Linked DNA regions of Homo sapiens. The protein of the gene in region 2 binds, or shares a complex with, the protein of the main gene of each other region. Links are inferred from orthologs where the notes say so. Each region holds a gene or a part of one and is shown on either strand. Other genes may lie near its edges. The genes, in order: HCN2 and PEX5L.

Region 1 (7,950 bases), on a different chromosome or scaffold from region 2:
GCCGGGCGTGGTGGCGGGCGCCTGTAGTACCAGCTACTCGGGACGCTGAAGCAGGTGAATTGTTTGAACCCGGGAGGTGGAGGTTGCAGTGAGCCGAGATCGTGCCACTGCATTCCAGCCGGGGCAACAGAGCGAGACTCTGTCTCAAAGAACAAAACACAACAAAACAAAAACCTCTGGGCTCTGGGGCCAAGGGCTCTTGCTGAAGGGGAGGTTCCAGACTGGGGTCTGAGCCCACATGGCCTGCGTGTGCCTGACTCAGACAAGGGAGGGTCTTGAATTTCCAGCACAAAGATTCATAGGATTTTGCCATTAACACTGGGGGCTAGGCCAAACACACTGGCTCATGCCTATAATTCCAACATTTTGGGAGGCTGAGGTAGGAGGATCGCTTGAGCCCAGGAGTTCAAGACCAGCCTGGGTAACATGAGACCCTCTGACACACACACACACACACACACACACACACACACACACACACACACACACGGGACCCCTTCCCATCCCTGTACCAACTCAGCCTTCTTAGTTCTTGAGGTTTTCTTTTTTGAGACAGAGTCTCACTCTGTCGCCCAGGCTGGAGTGCGATGGCACAATCTCGGCTCACTGCAAGCTCCGCCTCCAGGGTTCACACCATTCTCTTGCCTCACCCTCCCGAGTAGCTGGGACTATAGGCGCCCGCCACCACGCCCAGATAATTTTTTTTTTTTTTTGTATTTTTAGTAGAGACGGGGTTTCACCATGTTAGCCAGGATGGTCTCGAACTCCTGACCTCGTGATCCGCCCGCCTTGGCCTCCTAAAGTGCTGGGATTACAGGCGTGAGCCACCGCGCCCGGCCAATTCTTGAGGCCTTATCCCCACCCCAGGCCCAGCCCCTCCCTATCATGGCCGGGGTCCCCACATCCTTTCGGAGGAGATGCTGAGGGACTGGAGGGACTCCCCAAAGTTAACACCAATAAAGAAAAACCTGGGAGCTCATCGCTGGCGTGGCCGCCGGGACCTTTGTTTCAGGAGCCGCCGAAAGTCGGCTCCTTGCTTCTGGACGGCTCCTCGAGGGAAAAGCTGTTAACACCACGTCTGCGGGGTGACCCAGACGCTCCACTTCGGGGAAATGATCCCGAGGAAACGGTCCAAAAGGAAGAGAAAAAAATTAAAAAGCCATTTGTACCAAAATGTTCACAGCAGCTCGGTCTGCAAGAGCCAAACGCTGGAAGGGACCCAGCGACTCACATCGTGGTGGCATCAGCCAGACCTGGGCTGGCACCCGCCTGCTGGCACAGTGACCTTGGACAAGTTCCTGCAGCCCCTGAGAACCTCAGTCTCTTCTTCCAAGCATCCACCGCCTCGGGATGGGGAGGGGCTGAGCCTTCGGGACACCCCCCAAGAACCACCCAGGCTGGGGATAAAACCTAGAGAAGGGCTGACTCAGGCTGGGCACGGTGGCTCACGCCTGTAATTCCAGGGCTTAAGGAGGCTGAGGCGGGCAGATTACAAGGTCAAGAGATCGAGACCATCCTGGCCAACACGGTGAAACCCCGTCTCTACTAAAAATACAAAAATGTATTATTTTTTTGTGTGAGGTGGCGGGCGCCTGTAGGCCCAGCTACTCGGGAGGCTGAGGCAGGAGAACGGCATGAACCCGGGAGGCGGAGCTTGCAGTGAGCCGAGATCGCGCCATCGCACTCCAGCCTGGGCGACAGAGCGAGACTCCGTCTCAAAAAAGAAGGGAAGGGTGGGTGCAGGGGCTCATGCTTCTAATGCCAGCACCTTGGGAGGCCAAGACTAAAGGATCACAGAAGCTCAGGAGTTCAGGACCAGCCTGGGCAAGATAGTGAGATCCCGTCTCTACAAAAAATACAAAAATTAGCCAGCGTGGTGGTGCGCACCTGTGGACCCAGCTACTTGGGAGGCTGAGGTAGGAGGATTGCTCGAGCCCATGAAGTCGAGGCTGCAGTGAGCCAAAACTGCACCATTGCACTCCAGCCTGGGTGACAGAGTGAGACTCTGTCTCAAAAAAAAAAAAGGCTGACTTGATCTCGGGGTGGGGAGGGGTCCCCTCACAAGCTTGAAGGGTGAAATCAAATGACTAAAAGGACTAGAAATTTAAGGCCTTCCTTTCCCTGAGTCTAGACAGGACATGAGGGCTCAGGCCCCCAGTCCGACACATCTGCTCAGCAACGAGACCCCCAGGGCCCCAGCACCGAGTGGGCTGAGGGGATGCCACCCGCCTGCCGCTGGCCCCCTGCCCCTCAGCCCCGAGGGGGCTCACCGTGGAGCTCAGCCCCAGCCTCACCCTCTGGATTGAGACCTGCCTCCCACCTTCGAGCACCAGTCTTGGGACAAAACCAGCAGGAAAGAGCAGTTGAGAAGGCCACAGGGCCTAGAAACCTCCCCCACGAGGGGCGAGGAGAAACTCCCAGGGGGCTCCAGAGACCACCAAGGGGGACCTAGAAACTGCCAAGGAGACCTAGAAACCGCCAAGGAGACCTAGAAACCACCAGGAGGACCTAGAAACTGCCAAGGAGACCTAGAAACCACCAGGAGGGCCTAGAAACCACCAAGGGGGACCTAGAAACCACCAGGAGGACCTAGAAACCACCAGGAGGACCTAGAAACCACCAGGAAGACCTAGAAACCACCAAGGAGACCTAGAAACTGTCAAGGGGGACCTAGAAACCGCCAAGGAGACCTAGAAACCACGAGGAGGACCTAGAAACCACCAAGGGGGACCTAGAAACCACCAGGAGGACCTAGAAACCGCCAAGGAGATCTACAAACCACCAGGAAGACCTAGAAACCACCAAGGAGACCTAGAAACTGTCAAGGGGGACCTAGAAACCGCCAAGGAGACCTAGAAACCACCAGGAGGACCTAGAAACCGCCAAGGGGTACCTGGTTTTAAACGGCCATATAACATGAAGGCCTCCTTTCCAGGTGATGATTAACAGACATTCTCCCCCTTTATTCTTGGGGTGAGCTGGGGGCAGGTACCACACCTCCCCTCTGATGGAAGTGGGACTGCAGGATGAGACCCCAGGACTGTCCTCTTATCCACGGCCCACACTGTCTGGAAACCACCTCCCTTGAGCCTTCTGCTCCTGTGTCCCCAGAAAGGACTCCTCAGCCCATCTTGCCCAGCAGGGCAGTATTCCTGGGGATTACGGGGGTCAGAGCAGAGGGGCCTAGGAGAAGGGACAGGTGGGGTGGCCACCCTGAGGGTCCCTTGTGGGGCTGGGCCTGCCCGTTCCAACCACAATGCCTCCAAGCAGGGCTTGGGGCCGCAACCCTCGTCGTCACCAGCCAGAGGTCAGAAGGAAGAAGGGCGCCCACGCATGTCCCCTACCAAGGGGAAACCGAGGCCTGGGGCAGAGGGGACCCCAGAGCCCTGCAGGGCGTCACTGTCTCTGCCGGTGCACCCCAACCCTCTCCACCCCAACCCTCTCCTTGCCCAACACTAGACTGAGTGACCTTGGGAGACCCTCTCCTGCCTCTCGCCCTGGGGAGGGGGAGGCAGCTCCAGAAGACAGGACCCCAGAGAGGGGACCTGGGGTCAGGGGAAGGCCCAAAGCCCAACCCCACTCCCCCTCACACTCTGTGCAGCCGCGTCCGGCAGCCCTTTCCCCATCCGGCCACCATAGGGACCCAGGCGGGCCCCAGCACTCCCCGGGCACCCTGTGCCCTCCTTGTCCAACCCCAGTGCTGAGCAGGGACAGGCCCCCCTCAGCTGTCACAGAAACATCAGTGACCATCATTAAATCCTGTATTTAAAACCCATCCCCGACAGGTAACAGTGAGGCCTCTACGAGGGCCCCTTCCTCGGAAACGCGGGGGTCCTGCCACTTTGTCCAGCTTGGCCCTCGCAGGCAGGGAGGGAGACCAGCTCCGGAGGCCGGGATGAGGCTGGGTCCCTGGGGAAACCTTCCGGCCTCAGCTCTCACACCTGGGGGACCGGAAGAAGCCTCGGACCCCCTCTCACTCCAGAGTGGCTTCAGTGGGGCCCCCGGCACCTGACACCGATGTGAGCTCAGCCCTCCTCCAACAGCCGCCCAGCCTCTCTCTCGGCTCTGACACGGAAACTGAGGCTCCTCCAGCCATAAGTGAAACAGTGGGATGGGAACCCAGACAGACCATGTCATTCTCCTGCCCCGAGCTCAGGGTTCTTCCCCTGAAGTTCCCAAAGCCGACGCAGGTCCCCGTCTCTCCAGGGCTGGATGAAGCTTGGGGGAGGAGGCCGCCGACCCGGCTCCCAAACCCCACGAGGACACCAGGTCTCCTGGCAACAGAAGGCCCAGGACCCTCAGCCCCTTGGATCCCAGGGGAGGGCCTGCCCAGGGGGTCTTCAGCCCCTGCTGGAGCCTGAGTCCCGGGTTGGGGAACGGGCGAGGGCAGCCAGGCCCTCCCCGCAGGAGCCCAGCCTCAGGCCGGAGGCCGTCCAGGATTTACAGATGGGGACAATCCGGGAGAGGATTAGGGGCCGGAGGTCGGTGATTAAGGGAGAGCCTCGGGCCGGGGGATTAGGAGACGGCACTCTCAGCTGTGGAGTCATGGCCAGATCCGTGGCAGGTGCCCAGGATTAAGAAAGGGAGCTGCTACGGGTGGGGGAGATCTCGGGTTCCCGGGTGATCCCGACGGGGCAGATGTTCACCGAACTCTCGCCGGGCGCCGGGGCACACGATGACCACACAGGCCCAGCCCCAAGACAGACACATGGGATGGGCCTGTCAGCCCCAGGCAGGTGGGAGGGCTCCTTGGAGGAGGTGGCGTGTGGGTGGATGAGATGGTGAGGGGAGGGCAGTGGCTGAAGAGGGGCAGCAGGTGCGGAGGTTGATGCTCCGGGTTCCCTTCAAGGCCGGTGGGCGGCCTCGGGACCAGGGGACATGACTGGGGAGGGCTGGAGCCAGGGAGGAGGTAGAGGTGACAGGGAAAGAAGGACCGATGTCTGGAGAGGCCCATGCTGACAGCCGGGAGGCCAGAAAGGGGGACGGGGAGGCATCTGGCAGGAGAGAGGCGGCCAGCGCACAGGGTGCGAGGCTGAACCGTGGGGTGGGGGGTGAGGCAGGGCCCGGCCCAAGTGAGTGGGGGGCTGATGAAGGTGACTTGAATATGTGGGTTTTTAGGTTTTTTTTATTTTTTTGAGACAGGGTCTCACTCTGTTTCCCGGGCCGGAGTGCAGTGGCACGATCATAGCTCACTGCAGCCTCAACCTCCTGGGCTCAGGTGATCCTCCCGCCTCAGCCTCCAGAGTAGCTGGGACTACAGGTGCACGCCACCACGCCTGGCTAATTTTTTAACTTTTTGTAGAGATGGGGGTCTTGCTATGTTGCCCAGGCTGGTCTCGAACTCCTGGGCTCAAGCGATCCTCCCGCCTCCGCCTCCCAAAGTACTGGCATTACAGGCATGAGCCACAGTGCCTGGACAAAGATGTCCGTTTTCGAGCAGGGAACATAGGGAAGGCCCTGAAGAGAGCGGGGAGGCCTTGGCCACCCCGACCCCTGACCCCTCCACGCAGACCAGAGGGCAGGCCACCGCCACCTGGGATATGGGTCCATGCACACCCCACCATCCTGCACACGCTGGGCCTTCCTGCCGTGACCAGAGCCAGACAAACCCTCGCCTCGCCCTGCCCCCGGGGCCATCCCCCCAGGATAATGGGGGGTTTATTCCCACGCCCTAATGCTGGGATTCATCACTGCGGATTTGCAGAGCTGCACCCCCAGGCTGATCTCCCGCTGACCCACTCAGCCATCTGAGGCGGGGCCCAGGGGCCGCCTGTCCTGGTGGGGTCTTGGAGCAGCTCCTCCCCGACCAGTCCTCTCGGGGACCCCAGGGGACATAACAGATCCTGGCTTTGGGGAGCATCTCGTCTGTCTCCCCTCACACGGGGCCTCCCCAGCTGAAGACAATTCAGAAACACAGACCTGCAAGTCAGCAGCAGCAGGAGACGGCAGGGCGGCCACAGGGCACTTAGCCCTGGAACTGGACCGAGGGCAGTCAGGAAGCCGCCAGCCTCTCTCCACCCGACACCTGCCCTGTGCCCCCCAGAGCTCCCAGGGCACAAACCCCGGATCTGCCCAGGTCTCCACCCCGCCAGGTCTGCCCAGCCCCCTCGGTGACACCGGGGGCAGGGAGGGTGGATGACAGCAAGCTTCGGAGAACGCGACCTCCTCAGACCGCCCCTCCCTGGGCCTTCGTGTCCCCTCCAGCCCCAGCCCCTCTCCTGCGGAGACACCCTCCAGCCCCAGCCCTTCTCGTGCAGAGACCTCCAGCCCCTGCCCCTCTCCTGCGGAGACACCCTCCTTTGCACGACTCAGGCTTTCCCAAGTGGACCTGTGTGGCCTTTAGAATCAGCGGCGGCTGGGGTGAAGGGAGTAGGAATGAACTATACTTATTTTTGACCTAATTTTGCTCTGGGAGGCACAGAAGACCCTGCCGAAGCCCTGGGGGTTGCATAAGGCCAAACCCCTTCCTTCTTGGTTTTCACGCCTGTTCCAATTCAGGCACCAACCGTGATCACCTACAAGGAAGGGAACTTGAGCCTCTGGAACCCAAAACCTTGAACTTGGGTCCTTGAACTTGCTCTTCCACCAGCACCCCAGGGAAGCGCCCAGCATGCCTCTGGGGACTTTCAGACGTCAGGCCGGGGTGTAGAGCCACCCACAGCCCCAGAGACTTCAGCAATAGACCAACTGCACTTCTTCTTCCTTTTCTTTTTTTTTGAGACCAAGTCCCACTCTGTCAGCCAGGCTGGAGTGCAGCAGCGCGATCTCGGCTCACTGCAACCTCTGCCTCCTGGATTCAAGTGATTCTCCTGCCTCAGCCTCCCGAGTAGCTGGGATTACAGGCGCTCGTCACGATGCCCAGCTAATTTTTGCATTTTTAGTAGAGACGGGATCATCTCACCATGTTGGCCAGGCTGCTCTCGAACTCCTGACCTCAGGTGATCCGCCCGCCTCAGCCTCCCAAAGTGCTGGGATCTCAGGCGTGAGCCGCTGCACCCTGGCACCAACTGCACTTCCAAAGGGGCCAGCCGCCCAGGCCTGAGAGCCGAAATCTGGACCCACGTCAGCCCAGGACCCATGCTCTGCCCCTCAGAAAATTCAGCAAATATGTGGCACCTGCTGTATACTGGGACTGGGACGTGGGGCGTGAAAGAGGCCACTTCCGAGCACGGGAGCAGGGTGGACTTGGGCGTGGCGGAGACAGCTGGGCAGCGAGGAAGAACCGGGGTGAGGGCGTGCCTGGGGGGCACAGGCTGGGCAAGGAGCACAGCACTCTCTCAGCAGGAAGGGGAGGTGAAGAGAGTGTGAGACGTGAGGCTGAGACACTGGCAAGGCTGTGAAAGACCCCATCCTTCTCCCTCATACCATCCCCACCGTGCAATTGGGGAAACTGAGGCAGAGGGGCCCAGCGAGGACCCAAGACACCCAGCCAGGCACAGGAGGCCTTGGGCCCGAAGCCAGTTGGGGCCAGGCTCCTGAGTCAGCTGCAAACGTAGAGGCCCCTTCGCTTGCTGTGGGCTGCCCCAAAACACCCTCCACAGCAGGGTCCGGCCGCCTGCTTAGGGAGCTTTTGAGATATTCTTGGGGGTCTTTTTCCACACTGATTCCACACTGGCACAGGTCCCAAGCCTGGGGAGGGTCCTAGGGGCCCCGTGCACCCAGCTTGGCAACATCGAAATCCTTTTTTAAAATCTGACTGCCGTGACTCCCCTAGTCCCGAAGACAGGCCCCGCTAACCCCATTCCCTGCCTGCTCAGTTCCACTTCAACACTCATCTGCCGGGGTGGGGCTGCACTTGGTCCACACAGGGGCCTCTGAGCCCTCTATGCCTCAGAGCACAGAGCGGGGCCACAGCCTGCCCAGGCCTCCAGGCGACCACGCCCAAGGAGGGTGGAAGGATGAGAGGGCTTCACTCCTACCACCGGCCTTCCCCCCAAGCCCCGGGATCAG
Region 2 (7,891 bases):
ATTTCCCTGATTGACTGACGTGGGTAATATGCCCATCTCCAACTGTGACCAATGGGGACGGAATGCACTGGTTGGCTCAGCCTGGGTGCTATGTTGCAACCCCAAAGCCTGGTAGTAAAATGTTTCCTACCACACAAGTGGACCAGAGTGAGGAAGAGATGGTTATTCAAAGCAAAGAGCCTTGAGAAAAGAGGCTTCCTGCCACTAGAAGAGGATGTTGCTCTGGGCAGCAAACGATATTCCATGACTGTGAATAAAAAGCTGAAGTTTTGGGACATTAGTGGGCAATGGAAAGCCACTAAAGATTTCTGACCTGAGCAGCATTGTGATTAATGCTGACCTTTATAAAATTAATCTGGCTGCGATGTATATGACAGGTTGATGTAGGAGATGAACGGAGGTGATAAAACTAGCTTTAAGTGATAAGAGGTTTAGGGAATCTGGGCTAGGATGGCAGTGGCAACAGTAGAAAGGAGTAGTCAAAAGCAAGAAATATTTTTGTTCACAAATGTTTTCTCACCAGGAATAAGAAACTCTAGAAAGTACACTTAATATTAAAAGCAATATTGGATCACTGAAAAAACATTGTCCTAAAGAGTAAACAAATATAGTGTAATTTCTTAAATTGGTTTAATAGGAGGCCCAGCTCTGAAGCATCCAGCTTGTTTGTTCATTTGGAAGAACATTGCTGCCATCTCCTCGTCATCAGAGTCCACATACTCTTATTATTCATAATTCTTCCTGGCAGCCTGGGGTTCCCAAATTTTTTCCAGATCAAATGCCCTGAAACACCAGCTAATCTCATTCTATGTGTCGAAGAGACAAAAAGGGTAAGTGGGCAAACTTTAACAAAATGTTCCTCCTTCTGATTGAACAACAAATACCAATTAGTCATTTTAATTTTGGTCTACAATTATTTTGACTTTTGTTCTCTCCTGCACCATCTTTCAGCACCAGAGTTTGAATTCTACAGATTATGAAAGAATGATTGAATCATCAAAAGACTCTTATCTCTGATTTTTAAGTCCACAAGAACACTAACCTCATCATTTTTACTAAGTTTTTTCAAAGATTTAATAAATCCTGAATTTTCAATACCCATTTGAAATGCAGGAGGATTCGCTTACTAATAAGCAAAATTAAATTTTGTCAATACAAAATAGATTCTACTGCTACCTCTCAATTATTTAATTGTATTACAGTGATTAAAATTGCAGTGGTACTAAGCACATTTCTTGCTGTAAGAAAGCTGAATGTGCTATGATTTTATGCCAAGTCCACTGACCACTCAAAATACAGTGAGATTATTTTATAAATGGAGTGCAATATGCATTCTTCTTCTCTAGTGGTACTGAGGTTGCTCATGTGTTATCACTGCAAAAGGCAAGAGCTAGCTTTGCCACATATTTACATGAATAAATAAACCTTCTAGGCCACAGTGCTGGTCAAATTTTATGGTGCATACAAGCACCTGGGGATCTTGTTGAAACGCATATTCTAATTCAGTAGGTCAGAAATGGCACCCAAGAGTCTGCATTTCTTACAAGCTCCCAGGACATGCTGATGTTGCTGGTCCACACACCACGTTTTGAGTAACAAGGGTCTTCAAATTTAATTACAAAATAAATCTTTTGTAAAATATTTTTCTGGACCTAGCTTATTAGACATGCATTGTTTCTGAGGAAAATAAAGATAATTCAAATCTCATTCCTAGTCTAAGAAATAGTCTAGGAAAGTGAAAGTTAAGCTTAACCAATCAGAAACCACAAACTAACCTCTAACTATGGACTTTCCATTAGAATGATCCAAATAAATCCAGTATTCCTCTTTAACCAAATAATTTCTTTGCTCTGCTTCCACATTTACCCTATAAAATCTTTCCCTTTAACGACTTCCGACAGAGTCCCCAACTGCTTTCGGTCTGCTGCTGCCTGATGCATGAATGGCTATTTGCTCAAAAAACCCTTTAAAATTTTAATGTGCCTTAGTTTATCTTCTAACAGAAGGAATAAGTGTGAAGAGGAATTCTTCACAAAGGAAAGCTTTCACTCCTGAGATTTTGAGAATGTAGGCAGTAACGAAATCAGTGACTCAGGTTTAAGAAGAGAATATATTGAGTTCTAGCTTCAACACTAGGCAGTTGCCATTCTGATCCAAATGCTTTTATGGTTGTTGGCTCCTTGAACCTGCCGTTAGATAATAACAAGCATATAATGGATTGGAAAACTTTGACCCTATTGTTACTTCACAGATTTCTAGTACTTTTAAATCAAAGCACTATACTTTTCCCAGTTTTTATATAACATGATAGTATTATATGATAATTAGTACCATTTTAAAATCTGCAGTACTTGAGGTCTCAGAAAATCAGTCCTCATCTTTTCTGAACTGGGAAAAAAAAGTCTGTTTGCATATTCATATATCATGGTTGGTAATTTACAACTTCCTTTGCATACATTCAGTCCTCAGCAGCTCTGTGCAGCACACTAGGTAGATATTTGTCTTATTTCAAAATTGAGGAAATAGAGAGTTGGTACACTTGCCCAAGAGAGCATTGAGGTAGTGAGATGGAACTAGCACCTCTTGTTGCTGACTCCAAGTCCTGTGCTTTGTCCTATAAAGAACAATAAAATAAGAACTGGATGACATTTTACAGTTTACAGTGCTTATGAACATATCTCTATTTTCAGGGTAAAAAAAATAAGTTTTTTATACAGAGTTTAGACATGAAAAAACTGATGTCCAAAGTAGTAAAAGGAAATTGTCCAAGGGTAACTACTAGTGGAATCTAATAGGAATCCATGTCTCCTGCTTACAGGTCTTAGTCCTTTTGTGTTTGTTTGGTTGGTTGTTTTAGGACCTCAGATGCATTGAATTGGTTCATTTCACATCCTTTTGTTCATTTCACATTCTCCTCATTAGTCCATACATGGTTCTATTTTATTTAGTTACACAGTAATTTTTAATAGGATATTAGGTGTCCTATGAATCACTACCCGGCATAGAAGATAAGACATTAACATCTAAACTTCAAGTGAAATGCTTCCCCATCTATTTCCCTGCCTCCCTTCACCCAGGGTCACCAACACTCTGAACACTATATTCATTGTTCCACTGCTTTCCTTTTTATATTGTTGTATATGAATATATGAATACACATTGACATTTCTAGGGATTTTTTAAACTTTATAAAAAGCATATTATGCTATATGCAATATTTTGGGGATATCATGCTGTACATAATATGAGGGGCCTGTAGAATTGGAGATGTTTTTACCAACAAAATTAGGTAATCACAGTATACACCACCCCGTGGTGTGTGTGTATATATGAACATTTATTGTGTAGACACATCAAACTACCCAGTCTCAACTTGAGACATATTTAAATGCACTCTTCATATATGTGTGTATGTGTGTGTAAGTGTATAGTAGTAAAGGTCTATTCATTCAGCAAATATTTATTGTGTGCCTGCCATGTGTCAGGAAGTACTAAATACCTTACTGTGCACACACGTGCAAAACCAAGTGCAACACTCCACCCCCCTAAAAAAAAGTCCCTGATCTCATGGAAATAACATTGTACAGAGGGAGAGACAGACAGTACATAAAATAAATATGGAAAATATAAAGGATGTTAGGTGATGTTACGTGCTAGGGAAAAAAATAAAACATGCCAGATCCTCAGGGACTAGGGTTTGCCGTTTTAAATAGAATGCTCGGCGATGAACTGGGGATGAGGGGAGCGGGGAGTCTTTATTTAACGGGTGATACGGACGTAACTTTCGAGAGCTGAATCAGAACCGAAGTAAACTCTTCGGCAACCCCTGCACTCAGCCTATAATGTCTGTAGGATAACAGGCTCAGCCGCGGTGGATGGCCCCCGGAGAGACGATGCATGTCTTCCCGCCTTTCTTCCGGCCGGCCATCCTCTCCGCTAGAATCGCCCTGCCCGCCGACGCCGCACCTGAACGCCGCGCTGCTGCGGGCGTTGTACACCAGCGCGACCACCGCCTGCCGGCACCTCGCCTTGCCGCCGCGCGCGCGCAGCCCCGAGGACGCGCTCGGGGAGCGCGCACCGCCCGGGGCCGCCCTCGGGCCGCTCCCAGGCCCCTGGGAACGCGCGCGCGTGCCCGGTCCCGCGGCCTCTCGGCAGGCACGCGGCTGGGAGAACGGCGCGCGCCCCGCTCGGCAGCTGCGGCGGCGGCTGGTGTAGGCGCTCACGTCAGGGCTGGGAGGAGGGGGTTCGCAGCTCAGAGAGAGAGAGACATGAGGCAACCTGGCAGGAAGCGAGAAAGAGTTCGGCGAAGAAGGAGTGAGTTCTAGAGACGCCCCGCGAGCAGGACCCGCGCCTGCAGGAGAGCCTGGCCGACCCGGCTCCTCGCCTTCTCTGCGCGCTCTCCCGCGTCCGCTTTCAGCACCCCGAGCGGAGAACAGTTCCCGGCAGCCCGCAGCGCTGCCGAGTGGCCGCCGGCCGGCCGAGTACCCGGAGCTCCAGGGGGCTCAGGAGCACCCTCTGAGAACCCGCTGTGCACCCACCTTTTCCCCTCTTTTGGTGGGCAAGTAAGCACGGGGGAAAAGCATCCGGTGGCCTCAGGGAGCCCTGAAGAAACCGAAGCAGAATGTACCAGGGACACATGCAGGTAAGACATTTCTATAGGGCTGGAGAGAATTCTTGGGGGCTAATTTAAGAGCAAGGCGGTTCACCAAGTTTCTGTGGTCAAGTGCTGCCTTCGCACAGCTCAACAAGTGAAGTGATGCAACATGACCGTGACATTTCTGTCCGGTGCTGCCGGGAAAACTAGACCGGTTTCCGAAGGTGGGAGAAGGGGAGGGAAGACCTCAGAACTTCGATTGGGGAAGTTTGTTTTCTGTGCATTCCCTGAGCCTGTTTCTTTAAACAGGATCAAGGAATCGAAACAGAGGAAACCCTAGAGATGACCGTGTTTCCGTTGTAATCCTATTGATGCATCTCAGCATGTATGTCAACTGAAGGGCAAACAATAATAGGAAAGACAAAGCTTTTCCTTTACCATCTGAAAAGGTTGCTTGACTTAGAACACTCTGTCACTTTCGTTTCATTTTTTAAAGTGTTATATTTAAAAAACGATTTATAGTGTATTTTCCCCCTTCACATTATGGGACATTGCCATCTACTCCAATAGTCACAGGATGACTTGGGAGGATGAATTTCAAACACATGTCCAAGGAGCTCTAATGTTTTTCAGGGGAGGTGCTGCCTCCGGTTGTTATTAATATTCATCTGAGCTGAGCCGCTGCTTCTTTCCGATGCAAACACACTCTACTCTCTTGGGCAAGATTACTTTAACCTTGACTCCAGTTCTCATTCATACGGTTGGTTGGTTCTTATAAAGGCAGATATATGCTTTGGGAGAAAAATAAAATACTAACTCAGCTTTCTAAAGTATGAACTGGACTCTTTATCGCACCTAAATGGTTTAGTCATCAGGTTTGATGTTTGGGCTTCCTTTCCATTCCAAAGATGGTCAAATACAATCATTATGTGTGATGCCTTTATCCTGGTGTATAACATTTATGAATACTGAGGATTTTGCTTCTGTGTCTTTTAGAGCAATTGGAAATAGATAAATATGTTGTTATATTTATGACTTAGTACTACCCAGATTTAATTTCCATAACTTAGGGAAATTCTTTTGGACTATAATCCATTTTTAAATAAAACACAATATTTCATCATAGTCTCAATTTTTATAAGAATTCTCAATATACAGTGCCAGAATTCCAAAAGATTTCCCGTATGACTAACATCATCCTGTTTTGAAAATTATTAATGTGATTATATCACATTTGATAGACAAAAAGTAGTGAATGAAGTATATTTTTAAATATTATATATGATCAATGTGATCTGCATGTTTCTTATAAAAGCTACACCAATTGAAAAGTTAAGTAACATAGAAGAATTCAAATAATGACTGCTGAAAAAATTAACAAAGAATTATTACTATAGTTTTATGCTTCATCTTCACCCAAGAATGATACTTACAATTTTATATATTATCTGTTTTTTAAACAGTTTCTTCACAAGGGTAAAACAGGAAGATTTTAATAGAGTCAACCCTCAAAAAATTGTTCATTTACACAAAATTGACAATTGACCACTAAGGGGAAATTAACAAAAACTTTGCACAGTATTGTTTTGTTGCTTAAAAAATATGTTACTGTGAATGAAGAATCGAAGCAACAATATGGTAAATTCATGCACCCAAAAACAATTTTAACTCAATTTTCTCAATATCTCAAAGGAGAATGTTATTGAAACTTGAGTTGCCTGGAACAATGTCTGAGGGTTTAATTTCACTTTGAAAGAATAAACAAAATATAAGACTCTGCATATTCTCCCAACTTAATGTCTTTTGCTTGTGCACTGCTGTAACAGCAAATATGATGACTTGCAGTAAAACTCACAAATCTTTGCTGCCAAGCTTAAATTAAAACATTACTAAATAAAGACTGTAATCAATACATCCACCAAAATTTCAGAGCATAATACTTTTTTCCTACTTACTATTAACCATTAATGTTAAGCATAAAACTTCCGAGGCCTTAGTAGGTACGTTTAGTAGTTATTCAATAGTATGATGATCTGAATGGGCATCTGCTCCCCCCAACAAAAAAATACCTATGACAGATTGATTCATAATATACTTGTTGGCTTACATTTTAAACTCATATCTCTTCCCCCAAAGAATATTATTTAGCCTATGGACAAAATAACGTTTCCTTATCAGAGATACTATCATCTTCCTGTGTGTACCTGACTCTAATCACAGATAAGAAGAAACACATTCCAAACACTCCAAAATGTGTATGATTAAAATCTGAATCCATATTTGGTAAAGTGGACCAGGGATAAGCAGATTTACTAACATTTCTGCCAGCTTTGGAGTTAATTTGAAACATAATGTTACTTGACTGATACCTTAAAACAAGAGTGAAACAGAAATGTTTGCAATCTTTTGCTATGCATTCTAATTCTTCTCTTTTCTGTATCCAAGAGACTTTAAAATAAAGTGCTTTGTAAATTAGCAGTTTGAAGTAGGGGCAGGTGTTCTCAGGAAGACTTAAAAATAGTCTAATTTAAAACTCCTGTGGTGCCTTTGTTTTTGCAACTTAATGATTTTGCAGATAAAGTCTATTAATTCTCATACATATGGCTAATTCATCTGGTTTATGGTAGAATCTGAATTCATTTTAGAAACCGCAGACTTTTAAAAACACACATTTGGTTTGCTCTGCTAGTTCATTAGAAAATAAAAGTTGGCATCTATTACAGATAGAGCATAGAGTAACAGATATTTCTTGGTTTCATAGTAAAAGCCGCAGGTATATTTCTTAGGAGCAGGGTCCTGGAGCTATGTTTTTATCCAGCTGCCTTACCAATTATTTCCAAGGGGAGTTAGTCACCCCAGTAAATGAAGCAAAGGTTGCTTCTTTTGTGACTGTTTTAGATTTACTTATTTTTTTCTTTTGACCAAGGGCACTGATGATGATTGAATATACTTTAGCATCGGTTCTGACAAAACTCTGTTGCTCATTGAGGGCCTATGGTCTTAATTCCACCAATACCTCTGTATGTTCAGGGCTGAGGTGATTATTTGCCTATGTGCATTTGAGTTAACATTTCCAGTTAGAGGAAATTATTACATGTCTCTCAATGTTTTCTTAACCTAGCTGTTTTATTTCTGGGGTGGTATAAATACAGAGAAATATAATTTCAATTTTCTACTAAGATTTTTTGAATTGTTATTGAAGAATCCACAGCAATGGGTTTTTTAATAAAAGAAAGTTATTTCAGAAGGCAATCAAACAAAAAATCTATTTGTAATTGTAACTGATCTTTATTTTAG

The links.
Region 1: the proteins of PEX5L (region 2) and HCN2 are in contact, whole or in part, in a crystal structure (PDB 4EQF), measured with the Mus musculus proteins. The link is inferred for Homo sapiens from one-to-one orthologs. Residues at the interface, in NP_001156988.1 of Mus musculus: Glu315, Glu317, Val343, Asn347, His426, Asn453, Arg454, Ala457, Thr458, Ala460, Asn461, Tyr472, Arg484, Tyr487, Asn488, Ile491, Ile494, Ile537; in NP_032252.1 of Mus musculus: Leu859, Ser860, Ser861, Asn862, Leu863.

Annotation. Positions count from the first base shown.
Region 1 is NC_000019.10:592,387-600,336, reverse strand, and holds part of HCN2 (potassium/sodium hyperpolarization-activated cyclic nucleotide-gated channel 2), read right to left. Parts: intron 1-7,950. UniProt on the Homo sapiens protein: Hyperpolarization-activated ion channel that is permeable to sodium and potassium ions. Displays lower selectivity for K(+) over Na(+) ions. Contributes to the native pacemaker currents in heart (If) and in neurons (Ih).
Region 2 is NC_000003.12:180,033,330-180,041,220, reverse strand, and holds the start of PEX5L (PEX5-related protein), read left to right. Parts: upstream 1-4,283; 5' UTR 4,284-4,621; coding exon 4,622-4,642; intron 4,643-7,891. UniProt on the Homo sapiens protein: Accessory subunit of hyperpolarization-activated cyclic nucleotide-gated (HCN) channels, regulating their cell-surface expression and cyclic nucleotide dependence.